Regions from separate parts of the Homo sapiens genome. Here region 1 is linked to region 2. Evidence: fine-mapped expression QTL. A gene starts in region 2. The other region holds a variant in brackets. All regions are shown on one strand. Distances are from middle to middle.

Evidence for each region. PIP is the estimated chance that this variant, and not a neighbour inherited with it, causes the effect. A credible set is the group of variants that fine-mapping cannot tell apart.
Region 1: its variant is the best candidate, but not a certain one, in a credible set for the expression of DDX6 in monocytes (Quach 2016, PIP 0.59).

What each region holds. Positions count from the first base shown.
Region 1 is chr11:118,838,910-118,843,300 of GRCh38, reverse strand. No RefSeq gene overlaps it. Among named protein-coding and RNA genes, the nearest start is that of CXCR5, 43 kb to the left of the region's middle. RefSeq lists enhancers at 1,760-1,809, 3,903-4,012. The variant C/T (reference allele first, on the strand shown) is at 2,180.
Region 2 is chr11:118,788,920-118,793,310 of GRCh38, reverse strand. It overlaps DDX6 (DEAD-box helicase 6), which reads left to right and starts at 2,147. Exons shown (of 14, transcript NM_004397.6): 1 at 2,147-2,213. RefSeq lists enhancers at 262-371, 760-1,315, 1,932-2,041, 3,352-3,531, 2,990-3,547 and silencers at 1,372-1,661, 2,112-2,441, 3,072-3,151.

The DNA.
Region 1 (4,391 bases), 50 kb before region 2:
TGCAGTGGCATAGTCTTGGCTCACTGCAACCTCCACCTCCCAGGTTCAAGCGATTCTCCTGCCTCAGCCTCCCGAGTATCTGGGATTACAGGCGCCTGCCACCACACCTGGCTAATTTTTTGTATTTTTAGTAGAGATGGAGTTTCACCGTGTTGGCCAGGCTGGTCTCGAACTCCTGACCTGGTGATCCACTGCCTCAGCCTCCCAAAGTGCTGGGATTATAGGCCTGAGTCACCATGCTGGGATTACAGGCGTGAGCCACCATGCCCAGCCCTTAATGTTATTTTTATGTTTGATAACGGCATTGTGGTTATGTAAGATAATGTCATTCTTAGGAGTTGGGGTTTAAATATTTAGGGGTGAAACTTCAAATGGCTTTGCATTTGTTTATTTGTATTACATATCTAGTGAATACAACAAAATGTTCAATCGTTGAATCTAGGTGGTGGATCTGCAGATGTTTCAACCTTTCAGTTATGTTTGACATTTTTTAATAATAAAGTAACAGGGAAAATAAAAGACTCCTCTCGATTCTTACCTTCTCTGGAAGGCTTTCCTACCCACCTCCTGTTACTGCTTTAAAGTCTGTGCTGTCCATCCTTTTTCTTTCCAAGGTATAGCTCTGTGGCATATATCATACTGTACTTTAATTTCTTGTTTTCTGGTCTCTCTGTAAACTTTGAAGTCCTTAAAGGGCAACATGCTCTCTTTCATCTGTAACTGTCCAGCATTTATTCCTGTACCTGGCACAGGATTGGGTGACTCATTCATCCTCGTTCAGTCAAGAACAGAAGAAAGTCTAATTTAGGAATTTTCTTCAGGGCTACCAATTCAAGTGACTCCAAGAAGAGCAACGGTTTGAGGTTTTTAATTTTTGTTTCACATTATAGAAGTGATGCTTGCAAATTAAAATACTTTTAAAACAAACTAAAAAGTAGAGTTATTTCATTCCTGTCATATACACACTTGTTAGAGTTGAGTTTACCATGTATCCTTCCAGAACTATATCTATGCAATTATAAACACACACACGCAAAACACTACTATAAATGTTGTCTGGAGACTTACTTTTTAAAAATCTAATAATATATTATGGAGCTTACCATATTTGTATATAAATAGATCTGCATCATTCTTTACACAGGCTATGTAGTAATTGTATGGCTGTGCATTGATTTTGTTTCACTACTGCATTTGAATAAGCGTATAGGTAGAGAAGCAGTCTCTACATGAAATGGCTAACCCAGACAAAAAGGGATTTGGCAACCACTAGCCCAGACAAAAAGGGATTTAGCCTTGAACTGTGGGTACAAAGTCAGTGTAAACTGGCAAGGAAGGGAATTTACCAAACGTTTCAGCTTACAGAGTCCTGGTCTGTTCAAGAAACAAAATAGAGATCATGGAAGAGAAAGAACCAAGTATGAAATTGAATGGAGCCAACTGACAAGTGTGAGACCTGTAATCACCTAATTTGTGTATGCCGTTACCTTCCTACTATATGAGCATAGTCCCTGCACCCTGAGGCAGCCAAGACATGACACAGCCTCTAGGAACAAGTGAAAGTGGCAAGTGTATGGGCCCTGGTTCATCTTGGACGAGAAAGTCCCACTGGCTTCCCAATGACAACAGAAAGTTACCCAAGCAAGTGTGGGTGAAATCCCACTAATGTTTCTAGAGCCAGCCAGTCTCATCATGGGTGCCCCCACTGCTTTCGCTTTCCCCAGCCACTTCTTACGCACGAAAACACGCCTCTTCTGCTGGGAAGCCCTCCCTCCTTTCTGAGAGTCCTCACCCACCCCAACTATCCAATCTCATTTCCCTCTTAGTTTCTTTTCTTTCTTTCTTTCTTTTTTTCAGACAGAGTCTCTGTCACTCAGGATGGGATGCAGTGGCATAATCTCAGCTCTCTGTAACCTCCACCTCCTGGTTTGAAGTGATTCTCCTGCCTCAGCCTCCCGAGTAGTTAGGATTACAGGCGTGTCCCACCAAGCCTGGCTAACTTTTGTATTTTGGGTAGAGATGCGGTTTTACCATGTTAGCCAGACTGGTCTTGAATTCCTGGCCTCAAGTGATCCACCCTCCTTGGCCTCTGAAAGTGCTGGGATTACAAGCATGAGACACCACGCCCGGCCTTATTTCCCTCTTAGTTTCTTTTTCTTTTCTTTTTTTTTTTTTGAGA[C/T]GGCGTTTCGCTCTTTTTGCCCAGGCTGGGTGCAATGGCACGATCTTGGCTCACCGCAACCTCCGCCTCCTGGGTTCAAGCGATTCTCCTGCCTCAGCCTCCCGAGTAACTGGGATCATAGGCATGCGCCACCACCCCAGCTAATTTTGTATTTTTAGTAGAGACGGGGTTTCTCCATGTTGGTCAGGCTGGTCTTGAACTCCTGACCTCAGGTGATCCACCTGCCTCGGCCTCCCAAAGTGCTGGGATTACAGGCGTGAGCCACTGCGCCCGGTTCCTTCTTAGTTTCTAATACCCATCCTGTTAGCTCAGACTGTTACTGTGTCAACAAAATGATGATGGAGCGCATTGAGACTATTAAAATGGGTTGTATAATCATTGCATGCCTATATCAAAACATCTCATGTATCCCATAAATATATACACCTACTATGTACCCACAAAAATTAAAATTAAAAATTTATTTAAACAATTAAAACTTTTTTTAAAAAAGAGTTGTAATATCCTGATGGTGTTGCCCACTCCAAAACATAGCATGAACCCATCCCTGTCAATTCGCCTTCACTGCCATGTCAGAAGTATGTGCTCATGGCCCTGTCTGCTGCTAAGCACAGGCATTTCTGCAAGTAAAATAAATAGTAATGAGTTTATATGCACAGTTTGCTTTATATAAATCCAATGAGTGGTGATCCAAGAAGTAACAAATTTTGGTAAATACAAAAATTGGGAATTTTAATCTGGGATTCTGTATAGTGTTAGGAGAGCTCAATGTTAGATTATTTGAATGCTAGTCAATAATGCTCATTGGCAATTTTTATTTTATTTATTTATTTATTTATTTATTTATTTATTTATTTATTTTTGAGATGGATCTTGCTCTGTCGCCCAGGCTGGAGTGCAGTGGCGCGATCTCGGCTCACTGCAAGCTCTGCCTCCTGGGTTCACGCCATTCTCCTGCCTCAGCCTCCCGAGTAGCTGGGACTACAGGCACCCGCCACCACGCCCGGCTAATTTTTTGTATTTTTAGTAGAGACGGGGTTTCACGGGGTTAGCCAGGATGGTCTCGATCTCTTGACCTTGTGATCCGCCCGCCTCAGCCTCCCAAAGGGCTGGGATTACAGGCGTGAGCCACCGCGCCCAGCCTGCATGTTTATGTTTTTTATTTTAAGAATGTTAACTTTTTTGGCTGGGCACAGTGACTCATGCCTTTAATTCCAGCACTTTGGGAGGGAGGTTGAGGCGGGAGAATCGCTCGAACCCACAAGGCAGAGGTTGCAGTGAGCTGAGATCGCAACACTGCACTCCAGCCTAGGTGACAGAGAGAGACCATGTCTCAAAAAAATTTAAAAATTAAAAAAAGTCTTTTTCTTTGACAATCTTGCATACTAACATTTAAAACATTAAATAAAGTGTTATGAAAATACGGAATAGTTTTTAATATCAAGAATTTCTGAGAATTCCTGGGAATTTCTATTTTATTCCCAAATCCTAAAAATTGGCCATAAAATGATAATTTGAAGCCATTGATGGGTATTTTGGGTGCTATAATATAACCGTGTCTATTCTCATATAAGTTAAAAAAAAGTTTTTTTTCAGTCGGAGTCTCACTCTGTTGCCCAGGCTGGAGTGCAGTGGCACGATTTTGCCTCACTGCAACCTCTGCCCCCCTGCTTCATGTGATTCTCGTACCTCAGCCTCCTGAGTAGCTGGGATTACAGGTGCCTGCTGACACATCAGGCTAATTTTTTCATTTTTACTAGAGACAGGATTTCACCATGTTGGCCAGCTGGTTTCAAACTCCTGACCTCAACTGATTTGCCTGCCTTGGCCTCCCGAAGTGCTAGGGTTACAGGCATGAGCCACTGCCTATGTTTAAATTTTTCCAAACCAAAACTGGATCATTTGGGCTACATTCCTGCACAAACTACTTTGATGACTTTCTAGCACCCCTAGGATAAAAGCCAACCTCTTTGTGCCCTTTAAAGCTTGCATAATTTTGACCTGTTCACCCTCCAGCTCCAACTCTCACTCTCCTACTGCTTTCCAGTGACATCAGCCTTCTCTCAGTTCCTCAAACTCATCACTTTCCTGACTCAAGGTCTTTGCCCATGCTGTTTACTCTGCTCAGAATATTTTTCAGCCCAGCACTTTGGGAGGCTGAGGCAGGTGGATCACATGAGGCCAGGAGTTTGAGACCAGCCTGGCCAATATG
Region 2 (4,391 bases):
GCAGGGCTATTTCCTTACATTAGAAGGTATTTTAAAACCTGGGCTGGAGACGCCATGCTGTAAATTTAAAATAAAAAAAAAATGTAAGCCGAACCTTCTTTTTAACCTTAAGAATAGTCTTCACTATTCTCCACCACCTTCCCACCGGCTGTGTAGAAATAACGACCACCAAATGAGAATAGGCTATTTACTCAGAGCTGGCAAGAGTCAGCCGCGACCCATCACTTGATTTAACAGACTCATAGGCAGGCAGGGGAGTGGAAAAGCTTTACATATACTGAAAAAAGGGAGAAACTTCAGGTTGGCTCTGATTGGAGGATGTTGGCATCGGGAAGTTGGAGGAGGGCTATACTAGAAGCAGGGCTTCTTACGCGATTGGTGTGAGGAGCACATTTGGCTTTCTCTGATTGGCCCAGAGCTGGAAGCAGGGGCAAGAAATAGGGAAGCTGCCGGTTAAAGATTAAGTCCTGACCCTTCTGGCCGATTACTGAAGAGGTTATGGGTAGGAGGTCATGGTTAGGTTTGGCCATTCTTTGTATATTCAGTCTCTCAATTGGGTGAGGATTAGATTTTGTTTCTCTTGACCTAGCTAGCTTTTAGCTCCAAAGTTTTGTTTAACTTGGAAGAAGACAGCAGTTCTATTATTTCTGTCAAGGATAAACACAGACATTGGGATCTGAAAAGTATTATGGGAACATACATAAATATCTTCATAGTGAGGGTCAGGCCGGAGAGTCACCCTTTGCCTTAAGCTTCTCCATTTCCTTACTGAATTCCTATTTCTATTATAACTGACGCTTCACTAGCTTCCCTCCCTTTAGTGGAGGGCCCGGCCTCCTCCGCCCCTACTTTCTTCAGTCTTGCCCTTCGAGGGCAGGAGAAGACGGTTGCGCCCTACTAACTCTTCACCTTACAGTCCAGCTTCTCCCCCCACCACCCCGGTGCGCTCTCTCGGTTTGCTACCCTCTCCACCAGGCCTCCCCACTCCACCTGCGCAACGCCCCCAGCTCCGTGCTCTCCGGAGTAATCCCCCCTCAGTCGCACTCTCACAGCCCGGCCCCTGCCCCCGCCTCACCCCCAGTTGTGCCTTCACCTCCCGGTTCCTCCTAGACAGGTCCCCCAAGATACGCCCTCACAGTCCGGTCCCCCGCCGTCCTCTCCCGGCGCACGCTCAAGTCCGGTGCCTTCCCCCCGCAGACCCCCGAGGCGCACCCTCAAGCTCGGTGCCTCTGCGCCCCCCGCAGGGGCGCCCTCAAGCCTGGTACCCTTCACATGAGAGCCCCCCGGGCGCACCCTCAAGCTCGGTGTACCCCCCCATACCACCCGCAGGCGCGCCCTCATGCCCGAAGACTTCCCCCGCCCAGGTGCACCCTCAAGCCCGGTGCCTTCCCCCACAACCAGCGCCCCCAGGCGCACCCTCAAGCCCGGAGCCTACCCGCCGCCAGGCGCGCCCTACAGGCTCGCCCCGTCCCACCGCGCAGCGCCCCCCGCGCACTCTCTGGAGTCCTCCCTCCTGCCTGGTGCGGCCTCCGGGCCCGGTCGGCCCCCCTTCCTGCCCCCACACTCAGACGCGCGCCCGGCGTCTCCGGGTCGCTAGTTCCGCGCCTTCCTGCATGGAGGCGCGCCCCGAGAGGCTCGGACGCGGCCCCTTAGGCCCGGCATCAGCCTCCCCGGCCAGCTGGAGAAGTCAGGTCAGCTTCCTGTCCCCGAGCAGCTGCCCGGGGGCCAGTTTTCAAAACATATCCTTAGTCATGTAATAAAGAGATGTTCCTCTGGTCTCAACTCCCGATTTTTACTTTGGAGGGGCGAAGGCAGGCCTACCCTTGCCAGCCACCATTTCTCAATCACGTCGCGGCTGTGGAAAAGCAGCCGTCCTGTCCCTTCAGAAAGGAACTCGTATTTCCCCCTCGAACTTTTCTCGTCGGTGTGAGAGAAGGGCCCTCCATTTTCTCCTCAGGAAGCTTTCGCGGCCCGACTTCCTCTCACCACCAGGCCAGGAAGGCAGTGACGCCGCGGCGAATATAGCCGCGGCGGCCGAGGTTTCGCCATCTTGAGTGGAGGAGGAGCCGCGGTCGCCGCCATGCGGAGAGGCAGGGAAAGAGGGAGGAGGCGGCGGGCGGGCGAACGGGCGAGCGAGGGAGGGGGCAGAGGAGCCGAGTTAGCTCAGCCAGGCGGCGACTTCGGCGGCGCCACGAGAGCGGGCAGCGGAGGAGGTAGGGCTGGACAGCCGGGGGAGCCGGCGGCTCGGGCGGCTGGCCTGCGCGCCCCTCGGAGCGGGGCGGGGGCGGGGGCGAGAGGAGGCCGTAGCGAGAGGGCTGGGTGGGGGCGGGCGGAGGTTTCCGAGGAGGAAGGAGCGTCCGCCATTTTGGGAGCTTCGAGTCAACAATAAAGGACCGAGGGTGCCGAGCGGGAGTGGCCTCGTTGGTAGGACACGGGCCCGAGTCGCGAGGCTTGGGGTGAGGTGGTGGGGTCGAGGTCAGCGGTGCTTTGGGGGCTGTGGGGAGCCCCCCGGGCCGGCTCTGGGGGACTCTCGGGCGGAGGCCTAAGGCCTGGCCGGGCCTGGGGAGGAAGGCGGTCGGCAGCTGTGTGGGGTGGGAGCGCCTGAGAGGAGGCGAATATAGGAATGTGGTGCGCAGCAGGGTCGGCAGGAGGAACAGGCTAAGTACTCGGAGTAGCTTTATCGAAGATGAGGGAATATGAGGCCGAAGGGGGCGGCAAGGACTTAGGGGGATGATGGTGGAGGTTATAGGGTACGAGGCGGCCCTATAGGGGGCGGCAGGGACATGCTGTATTGGAGGGCTCGGTTTAGAAGCAAACCGGCCGCTGCTTGATTGCAGTAGGCCTTGCGGGTCAATAACAAGAGGGTATTTATGGAGCCCCCGACTCTTGGAGGAAAGGAGGGGGATTTCTGGTTTAGGGGGTCCATTTGGGGCCTCCTTGGGGGAGTCCCTATTGTTTGCTACTAATGGAGCGGTTGCTGGCTCATATTGCGCAGATAAGATTGCAGAGCCCCAACCTTTTGTGTTTATGGTCAGAAGTGTGTGTGTTTGGGGCGTGGGGCGGGGTGCGGGGGGACAAGAAATTTCCTTTCAGTTACGGGGTTCCAGTCATTAGTCAATGACTCTTTCCCGTATCTCTCTCCTTTCTCTTCCTCAGCCCCCATTTCCCTTCAGAATAAAACCCAGTCACTCCAACTTGCAGGCAAAGCTAGAAAAACTGCGCTGCATTTGCAAACAAAAGCTCTTGTTGGCGATGACGATACTGTTTTGGGTGTGAAACTGTCAATTGCTAACTACGATCTGTGAAGTGCTGTAATTAACTCCGCTAGGGGCTCCTCCCAACTAGTCTACGTTTCTTGTTGTTTGTTTTTTGTTTTTTTGTTTTTTGTTTTTGAAAATGTAGAAAACTTGCAAATCTAAATTGGGAAGGGGTAGGAGGAATATTTCCTTCTCTGAGAAAAAGCTGCAGTGCAGGTTTCAGTTTAAGAAGGGAGCAGTTATCACATAGTCTCATTTTGGATTTAAGGATATAGGAGGTCTTACTGTGCATGATGGACAGTAATGATGATATCGTTCGGTCTTTAGAGGTTGCCCTTTTCATCCTCTTAGTGCTCTGCAAACAGCTAAGTCTCTGTGAACTGCGTGATATCGCTGATCATAATATAAAACCGTCAATACAGGAAAGTAGCTGTTAACCATATCTGCTTAAGAGGTCAGAGTCTGAAGTAAACAGCTTTGTGTATGTGATAATCAGGATTTGCTTGTGAGCAACTTGTTCATTTTTTTTTTAAGGAAGGCATAATCAAGGAGCATTTTCTTCATAAATGTTGAGATCTGTTGACTTTAAAATTTTGAGTTTCACATGCCTTGGTGTATGGCAGAAAGAATCAGCACTCGTAAGCTAGTGTATTTTATATAAGAAATGTAACGGGGTTGCTGGGAGCGGTGGCTCACACCTGTAATCCCAGCACTTTGGGAGGCCAAGACAGGCGGATCAGCTGAGGTCAGGAGTTCGATACTAGCCTGGCCAACATGGCAAAACCCCGTCTCTACTAAAAATAGAAAAAATTTAGCTGCGCGTGGTGGCAGGCGCCTGTAATCCCAGCTACTCGGGAGGCTGAGACAGGGGAATCGCTTGAACCCAGGAGGCGGCGGTTGCAGTGAGCCAAGATTGTGCCACTGCACTCCAACCTGGGCGGCAGAGCGAGACTCCGCCTCAAAAAAAAAAAAAAAAAAAAAGTGTAACGGGGTTAAATCAAAAGCCAACAGAGTAGGGCTTTGTTTTCGTGTCTTTGTATGTTTTTATTAACTCCAATTAAAAGTAAGATTTCAGCCGGGCACGGTGGCTCTCGCCTGTAATCCTAGCACTTTAGGAGGCTAAGGCGGGCAGAT